Linked DNA regions of Homo sapiens: all the other regions are linked to region 3. Evidence: fine-mapped expression QTL. A gene starts in region 3. Each other region holds a variant in brackets. All regions are shown on one strand. Distances are between the middles of the regions. Region 1 overlaps RGS19 (regulator of G protein signaling 19). Region 2 overlaps PRPF6 (pre-mRNA processing factor 6). Region 3 holds the start of PRPF6 (pre-mRNA processing factor 6).

Region 1 (2,747 bases), 94 kb before region 3:
CCAGTCATGATACAGCCTCTCCAGCGGCCCCCAGCCGCAACCCCTGCTGCCTGTGCTGGTGCTGCTGCTGTAGCTGCTCCTGGTGAGTAGGGCCTGGGGTGCCCAGCTGGCGAGGGGGTCGAGGGCATGGGGCCAAGCAGACCCAGGAGGGGACCCAGTGGTGGCTTCCGAGGCATCCCCGCAGGCAGGATGCCCCTGCCACCTCACAGCACTGTCCTGTCCAGGGTCTGTTGGGCCCTGGTGATGAGTGGCCGGTGCCTTGGCCCCAGGGAGCTCATGTATGGCTCTCGTACCTGTCTTGCCAAGGGTGTGTCCGTGTGCTGTGTACATGCATGTGCCCGTTCACGCGGCATGTGCTTTATCCATGCTGCTGTGAGCCAGCCCAGGCTAGGCCCTGGGGGCCTGCGGTGGAGTAAGACAGGCACAGGCCAGGTGCAGTGGCTCATGCCTGTAGTCCCAGCACTTTGGGAGGGCAAGGTGGGCGGATCACCTGAGGTCGGGAGTTCGAGATCAGCCTGACCAATGTGCAGAAACCCTGTCTCTACTAAAAATACAAAATTAGCCAGGCGTGGTGGCGCATGCCTGTAATCCCAGCTACTCGGGAGGCTGAGGCAGGAGAATGGCTTGAACCTGGGAGGCGGAGGTTGCGTTGAGCCGAGATCGCGTCATTGCACTCCAGCCTGGGCAACAAGAGCAAAACTCCGTCTCAAAAAAAAAAAAAGAAAGAAAGAAAGAAAGACAGGCACAGACCCCATACAGTGTGTGGGGTGGAGGGACGTTTGAACAGAGACCCCAATAAGGGAACTGCTGGCCCTGGGGCGATGGCCAAGAGCTTCCCGGACAGCATGCGTGGGGGAAGAAGAGCAGGGGGCGGTGGCGGGGACGTCTCTGGGCATCCCTGTGAGGGTGGGAGTGGGGCTCCCAGATGGTAACAGATTTCCTAGGAGTGTAGGGGAGCTGGTGGATGTTTTCACACCTTGCAGAAGCCTGGCCCTATTCAGGCTTCAGGCCCTGGCTGATGAGAGGACAGCGCTTCTGGATCCAAGGTGGCGTCAGCTGACCCACGGGCAAGCTGGGGGTGGCCAGGGGGCAGTCGGGAAAGGGGGTGGGAGGAGCCCAGGGGCCTAGTTCTGTCAGGACGTTTGGGTGCACGATGTCTGCCAGCCATCCAAGTGCCCTGGAGAGAGGTCAGCCGGGTATGGATTTGGGTCC[A/G]GCACTGACAGGATGCTAGGAGCCAAGGCAAAGAAGCTGCTTCCCTTGAGACAACCGGGGATCAGGCTCCAGAACCTGAAGGAGTGTGGACACGGGTTTGGGGCTCTCACCTGCGTCAGCCGACGAGAGACACTGCTGACACGCCAGACCTGCAGCGTGTGACCCCATCGGTGGGACAGGGACAGGCCAAGATCAGGCCCAGGAGCAGGGTGGCCCTGTTCCCAGGCACATTCCCATGGGTGGCCCTGTTCCCAGGCACATTCCCATGGGTGGCCCTGTTCCCAGGCACATTCCCATGGGTGGCCCTGTTCCCAGGCACATGACCCTTCTGGCCTCCCAGGTGTTCAGGGATCTCCCAGCTCCTTGTGGCCCCTCATCTTGCCCCACCCCATCTCCCCCAGGGGAGCAGAGGCAGAAGGGGAGGTGGCATACCTGCTTCTCAACCTCATGTGGGGTGGGCATGGGTGGGTGGAGGAGGTTGCCCAGTGGGCCAGGGATGGGGAGGAGCACACCAGGAGCCGAAGGGCCCCTCCTGGAAGGCCAGAGACTCGCGGGCACTGGGTCACACTGCTGGAATGGAAGACGGCAGAGTCTGTGGTCTGGGCACTGTGGCAGGGACAGTAACCTGGACTGCAGATTCTGTGGGGAATTTGGGAGTGTGGGAGAGTGTGGGAAGAGCCAGCTCCAGGGGCTGCCCTCCTGCAGTGGGTGCCCATGTGTGTCAGGTGCCTGCAGGGGCTGCCCTCCTGCAGTGGGTGCCCATGTGTGTCAGGTGCCTGCCCATGTGCTGAGGGCCTGTGTGGCCGTGGAGGCGTGTGTGCCCACGGCAGCGCTGCTTCCTCTCTGCCACTAGGAACCAAGAGCGGCGGCGCGCGTGGCAGGCCTCCCGGGAGAGCAAGCTGCAGCCCCTCCCCAGCTGTGAAGTATGGTGAGTCCAGCCGGCTGGTGTGTGCGTGCTGGGGGGGCCCCAGACCGGGAGACTCGGGCCTGACATAGCCTGGCCCCCGTGCCCACAGTGCCACGCCAAGTCCTGAGGAGGTGCAGAGCTGGGCGCAGTCTTTTGACAAGCTGATGCACAGCCCAGCGGGACGCAGCGTGTTCCGGGCGTTCCTGCGGACAGAGTACAGCGAGGAGAACATGCTCTTCTGGTTGGCCTGCGAGGAGCTGAAGGCCGAGGCCAACCAGCATGTGGTAGACGAGAAGGCGAGGCTCATCTACGAGGACTACGTATCCATCCTGTCCCCCAAGGAGGTGCGCCAGACACCAGAACAGGCCGGGGGCCGCCTGCTCCAGGCACTAGGTGGGGAAGGCAGCTCCCGCACCCCCTGACCTCAGTGTCTTGTCCTGCAGGTGAGCCTGGACTCCCGTGTGCGGGAGGGCATCAACAAGAAGATGCAGGAGCCGTCCGCACACACGTTCGACGACGCGCAGCTGCAGATCTACACGCTCATGCACCGGGACTCCTACCCCCGCTTCCTCAGCTCTCCCACCTACCGTGCCCTGCTGCTGCAGGGGCCATCACAGTCCTCCTCCGA
Region 2 (2,754 bases), 49 kb before region 3:
AAGAAGGCCCAGGCATCCCCCAGGTCCGAGTCAATCTTCACAGTGCGGTGGAACCACTCCCTGGCCTTGGTGATCTTCCGCTGACTCCAAAACAGCCTGTTCCAGCAGAAGGACGTGAACCCAGAGTGAGTGGCTGCAGGACGGTATTCTGGGGCAGGGGAACGGCTTCAGGGCCATCAGCTTCATCCCTGACCCGCAGCCCTGGTGCTCCCCTCAAGAAGGCCTGAGGATCAGGGCCTCGGCTGATCCAGAAATAATTACCCCAGATCATTAACTTGAAGCTGCCCTTCACGGGTCTAACCAAATTGGTTTTTTTTTGTTGTTTTTTTTTTTTTTTTTTTGAGAAGGAGTCTCGCTCTGTCGCCCAGGCTGGAGTGCAGTGGCGCGATCTCGACTCACTGCAAGCTCTGCCTCCCAGGTTCAAGCGATTCTCCTGCCTCAGCCTCCTGAGTAGCTGGGATTACAGGCATGCGCCACCACACCCGGCTAATTTTTGTATTTTTAGTAGAGATGGGGTTTCACTGTGTTGGTCAGGGTGGTCTCAAACTCCTGACCTCATGATCCACCTGCCTCAGCCTCCCAGTGCTGGGATTATAGGCATGAGCCACCGCACCTGTCCCAAACTGTTTCTTAAAAAATTCACACGCAGGGAAAGATCTTCCAACTCCGTAAAATTAGGGTCAGATACAAGGAGATGAAACTAAACCTGACACAAAATTAAACTGCAACTTTGATGAGGGAAAGTTATACAGTTTCAGCTCCTCACTGAGACACCTGCTGGATCATCCTGCCCCACCCGGCCTCCAGCAGCAACCCCAGTGAACACTGAGAAGATGGGCTCCAGGCAGCACAAGGGCCTGGGCCTGCAGCCCACAGCCCTCAGGCCACTGGATTCACACCGCCGTGCCTGCCAGACACATGCACACCTGAAAAACCGGGCCCGAAGAGGTCCATGCTATGAGAGGCCAGGTAAGGGTGTGCATGGCACCCCCACCCGCTGCTGGAGAAGGGATGGCGGGCGCTGGCTGCTGAGCATGCTGGCAGGCCCGGGACTCTGCGTTGCTGCCACCCTCTCCTCAGGGTCACCTCCCCCTGGAGCCAGAGGCACCGTAGTCAAGAGACAACACGAGGAGCCTCCACTCCGGGCAGCTGTTCGGGTTCGTCTCAGTTGCCAAACGGAATAATTTCACACTCTGATAACCTGATTGTTTTTTAAGCCTTGTGGTATTCTTAATTGCCCGGTGTTAGATAAACTGTGATTTAAAGAGCACAAACCCAGATAGCAGACACACAAAACACTGGCTTGGGAATAGCAAGGAGTGACTTATTTACTTTAGC[A/G]AAGCCTTTTATAAGGTTTTATGGCTGCACTATCAGAGTGTCACCCAGAAGTCACTCTGGGAGGTGAACGCACAGGGCAGGACCAAGGTAGCACCAGGCAGACACAAGCCTCCCTGTGGGGAGCCTCTCTCATCTGTCGGGGGCCTGCGGGCAGGGGAGAGGAGGTGCCCCTACAGGCAAGCCTGTGGGGGCGGCACCCAGACCTCTGGAGACCAAGCACCACTGCCACCCAGTGCTGGGGAGAAGGGATGGAGAGAATCAAAAGCCAGCACTAGGAAGGCTGTTGTCTCTGCATGACCCATGGCGGGGCAGGTGGAGGGGAAGCCGGACACAGGAGAGCTCCTGGGGCCAGACACGCCACCTCTGCCAGGTGAGCCCACGTCCTGAGCTGCAGCCTCAGGAACCCAGGGTTCTTCCAAGAACTCCCTTCACCCCACATGGTCACTTCCCAGCCTCCTGACCCACACTCAGGCCCAGCTCCTTCCCAGACTGTCATCCTCTTTCTAGAAGGAAACAGGGACCCTGGGGGTCGGGGATGGCCCTGAGCTCCCTGCTGTGCCCCACACCTGGCGGGTCTTTGCCCACATGTGCCTAGAGTCTGCATGCTCTGCCCCATGGCTACCCGCTGCTGCCTGCAAGGTTCCAGAGTCACGTCCCCAGTGAGTCTCTGACCCAGCGGCCAGCGCACCAGTGTGAATCACACGCGTCCCCAGTGAGTCTCTGACCCGGCGGCCAGCACACCAGTGTGAATCACATGTGTCCCCAGTGAGTCTCTGACCCGGCGGCCAGCGCACCAGTGTGAATCACATGCGTCCCCAGTGAGTCTCTGACCCGGCGACCAGAGCACCAGTGTGAATCACATGCGTCCCCGGTGAGTCTCTGACCTGGCGGCCAGCGCACCAGTGTGAATCACACGCGTCCCCAGTGAGTCTGTGACCCGGCGGCCAGCGCACCAGTGTGAATCACATGCGTCCCCAGTGAGTCTCTGACCACGGCACCCTCAGGTGTGTCTGCCAGGAGAGGCGCCTGCCCCAGACCACAGCAGGAGCGACGGCAGCCGAGGATCGGGGAAGCCCACCCTGCTGCCGGGCATCTTTACAATGACCAGGAAGAGGCAGACAGACTCTGGAAAAAGAGCCCATTAGGACCCCGAGGTTCAGCAATCCTGTGGGGGCCCCACTCACTTGGCCACGGCCAGGAGCACATGGGGGTCATGCTCACACTTCTTCAGGGCATCCACGCTCTTGGTCCTCCTCTGGGGCCTTGCCTCGAGGAAGATGGCCTCAGACCACAGGATACCTATAATTCAGAAACAAAGAACAAAGATTTGCACTCCAGCCTCTGGTTCCGGAAAGGTGCCCAGCCTACAGATTCTAACCCGGGACGTCCTCAGACCACGACAGGGGCCTCCCACAC
Region 3 (2,754 bases):
ACCAAGGCAATCTCTCTCCACCCTAAGGCTTCGATCATCTCCCCCTCCACATCCAACCAGGCCCTTAAACCCAACTTGGCCCACACTGAGCTCTTCCGTGCCCACCTTACAGCTGCTCTGGGGGGTTTCAGCTGATAACAGCTGTCCCAGATGCCACGGGACCATGATGTAATTTTTGCCTCCCTCTCCCACTTTCCCCATCCTGTCTGTCCCCAAGTACTAATGAATCCACTTTCAAAATCCCTCCTTCCCAGACTATGACTCCCATCACAGCTGGAAACCAAGTTACCTCTCCCTGCCTTTAGCCTTCCTCTACTTCAACCCATGCTCTGCCAGATGATTCTTCCCAAAACACAGCTCTGAGTAAAAAATTCTGGGCCGGGCGTGGTGGCTCACGCCTGTAATCCCAGCACTTTGGGAGACGGAGGCGGGTGGATCATGAGGTCAGGAGTTCAAGACCCCCCTGGCCAACATGGTGAAACCCTGTCTCTACTAAAAATACAAAAATTAGCCGGGCGTGGTAGCGGGCACCTATAATCCCAGCTACTCAGGAGGCTGAGGCAGAGAACTGCTTGAACCCGGGGGGCAGAGATTGCAGGGAGCTGAGATCGCACCATTGCACTCCAGCTTGGGCGACAGAACAAGACTTTGTCTCAAAAAATAATAATAATAATAATAATTCTGAAGGGTCATGATCTTTCTAACGTCTCCAGGAGCTCTAGCCTGACGCTCAAGGCCCCTCCAACCTCCTGAGCTCTATTCTATTCGCTGTACATTCCACTCACACTGGACTCCCTCCTGTTCCCTGGGCTTCCTCCTTGCCTCACTTTTTTTGAACTCCCACACGCAGAATGTCAGTTTCTCTTCTATCGTCACCGTTTCTACAGCCCTAAGTCCAGCTCTCTTACTAAACTTGGCTCCAATGCTACTCTCCATTAAGCACTGGGTTCTAAATCTGGTCCTCTTTACGTACTTATTTATGGTAATAGCAAACCCTCCTTAGTGAGCTTGTGTGTGCCCCACAGATTCCAATATAATACCACCACCAAGAAAAACCCAGTAGTGTTCCTCATCAAATGAATAGCCAAATAGGATAATAACGACTGCTCACTTATCCAGCAACGCACGGTGGTCATCTGTGTTGCAGGCATAGAGGACCCAGGCACGCTTAAGGCGGGGCGGGCGGGCGGGCGGGGGGGGGGAGTGTCAGCCCGACCTGAGGAAGGTGGTCGCGTGTTTCCACTACACGTCAGATTCCTCTACTCCTCACTGCAGACCGTATACAGCATTACCCATCTTACAGACCAAAACACTGGGCTGAGAGTCAATGTGTCACATCTAGGCGGCAAGCAGGGTGCACACACAGGTATGTCCTGACCCCAAAGCCCGTTGCTTCCTGCAGGGATTAAGCCGATCCACCAAGCGTCTTTCAGACTGCGCGGCCATAGACCCCCGCCCCCAAACACGCCCCAAAGCACTGCGCTCCTGTAGCCGGGTCCCCGCCCCTCGCGCGCCGCCCCAGGCCTCACCCCCGGCCCAGCCCCGGCACGTAGCCGAGGGGCGCGGGCATCCCTAGGAACGGTTTCTTCTTCTTGTTCATGGTGGCGGCGACGACCAAGGCTAGGAAGGAAAGGAATGAGGCAGCGGAAGAGGGAAAGACGCAGAGACTCTAGGCTTCGACGTCCGATGCACTCCGTAGCAAAGTGTCGCCGTCGTCGCGTCACCCGCGCCCCGGAAGCAGAGCGCTCAGTCCGCACACGCCCCGCCCACTTTTGATTCCCTGGGCGGAAGTCCCGACGTCCTGGTTCGACGACTTCCGGCCGCGGCTAGGGGGCAGGAACGTGGTAGGCGCGTGCGCGGGAGCGCCTCCTCGTGGAGAGGCGGAAGAAGCTAGGTCGAGCTTGCACTGGGACCCTAACTGGCCCCTGGGGGCTAAAAACAGCCTGGGGCATTGCTGCTTCCCGAGTGCTCTGATGCAGTCCGGAGACCTGTCTGTGAGAGTGGGACCCATGGTCCCCTCCCTCTGAACCCATGGCCCCCTCCCTCTGAACCAGCCCAGCTGCCCGCCCTCGCCCCTGGTGCGCCCTGTCCGAGCAGAGCTGTACCCTGTCCAGTTGTGTAGAGCTTGTGTGTACTGGTTATGGGCACACCTGTCTGTGTGCGTCCTGTGCGCACACTGCTGCCCTACGCTTTTAGCACTCATATTCTTGAACCCCCATTCAGGCATCTGTCCCTCCAGTGGGACTAGAGACCCCACCCACGCCCGCCAACATGCCTTGGACATTCTGGTGAGGGCCACATCCTTAGCTCCTGGAGAGCTAATTGACGAAATAAATAACCGCAGCTGAGCTGTCGGGAACACGTCAGTACATGAACATGGCTGTCAAGCATGTGGGTGAATTCTGTGTGTGTGATTAGTGGGGTGTGTGCACAGAGGTCACGTGTGCTCGTGTTTTGGGTGCAAGTGCATGACTGTACTCTGTGCATGCATTTCTACATGTCTGTGTGCATCTCTGGTCCTCCTGCTGTAAGACATCCTCCAGAGCCCCTACATACACCCAGGGAGAGCACCCAGGCTCCTGGGCAGAGCAAGCCGAATAGCTGGTTGCAAGCCTGGCCTGCTGCTGCACCAGGCAACCACAGTTCCCTAGCCCAGCCCCATCTCAGCACTTCTCACTGGAGTCCTGGAGCAAACACACCGCTCCGGCCTGCTACAGCCTCCTTGGAGTTCCCCTCTGCCCCATCTCCAGGCAA

What was found. PIP is the estimated chance that this variant, and not a neighbour inherited with it, causes the effect.
Region 1: its variant is fine-mapped to the expression of PRPF6 in whole blood (TOPMed, PIP above 0.99).
Region 2: its variant is fine-mapped to the expression of PRPF6 in visceral fat (GTEx, PIP above 0.99). The same link has a PIP of 0.9 or more in tibial artery and unexposed skin.

Annotation. Positions count from the first base shown.
Region 1 is chr20:64,073,860-64,076,606 of GRCh38, reverse strand. It overlaps RGS19 (regulator of G protein signaling 19), which reads left to right. Exons shown (of 6, transcript NM_005873.3): 3 at 1-82; 4 at 2,066-2,140; 5 at 2,229-2,463; 6 at 2,563-2,747. Among named protein-coding and RNA genes, the nearest start is that of MIR6813, 1.8 kb to the left of the region's middle. The variant A/G (reference allele first, on the strand shown) is at 1,213.
Region 2 is chr20:64,029,260-64,032,013 of GRCh38, reverse strand. PRPF6 (pre-mRNA processing factor 6) reads right to left here. Exons shown (of 21, transcript NM_012469.4): 19 at 2,523-2,637; 20 at 1-96. Among named protein-coding and RNA genes, the nearest start is that of C20orf204, 5.5 kb to the left of the region's middle. The variant A/G (reference allele first, on the strand shown) is at 1,339.
Region 3 is chr20:63,980,092-63,982,845 of GRCh38, reverse strand. PRPF6 (pre-mRNA processing factor 6) reads right to left here and starts at 1,714. Exons shown (of 21, transcript NM_012469.4): 1 at 1,530-1,714. The coding sequence starts at 1,600. It also overlaps a transcript of SAMD10 not described here. RefSeq lists a silencer at 1,420-1,529 and an enhancer at 2,600-2,659.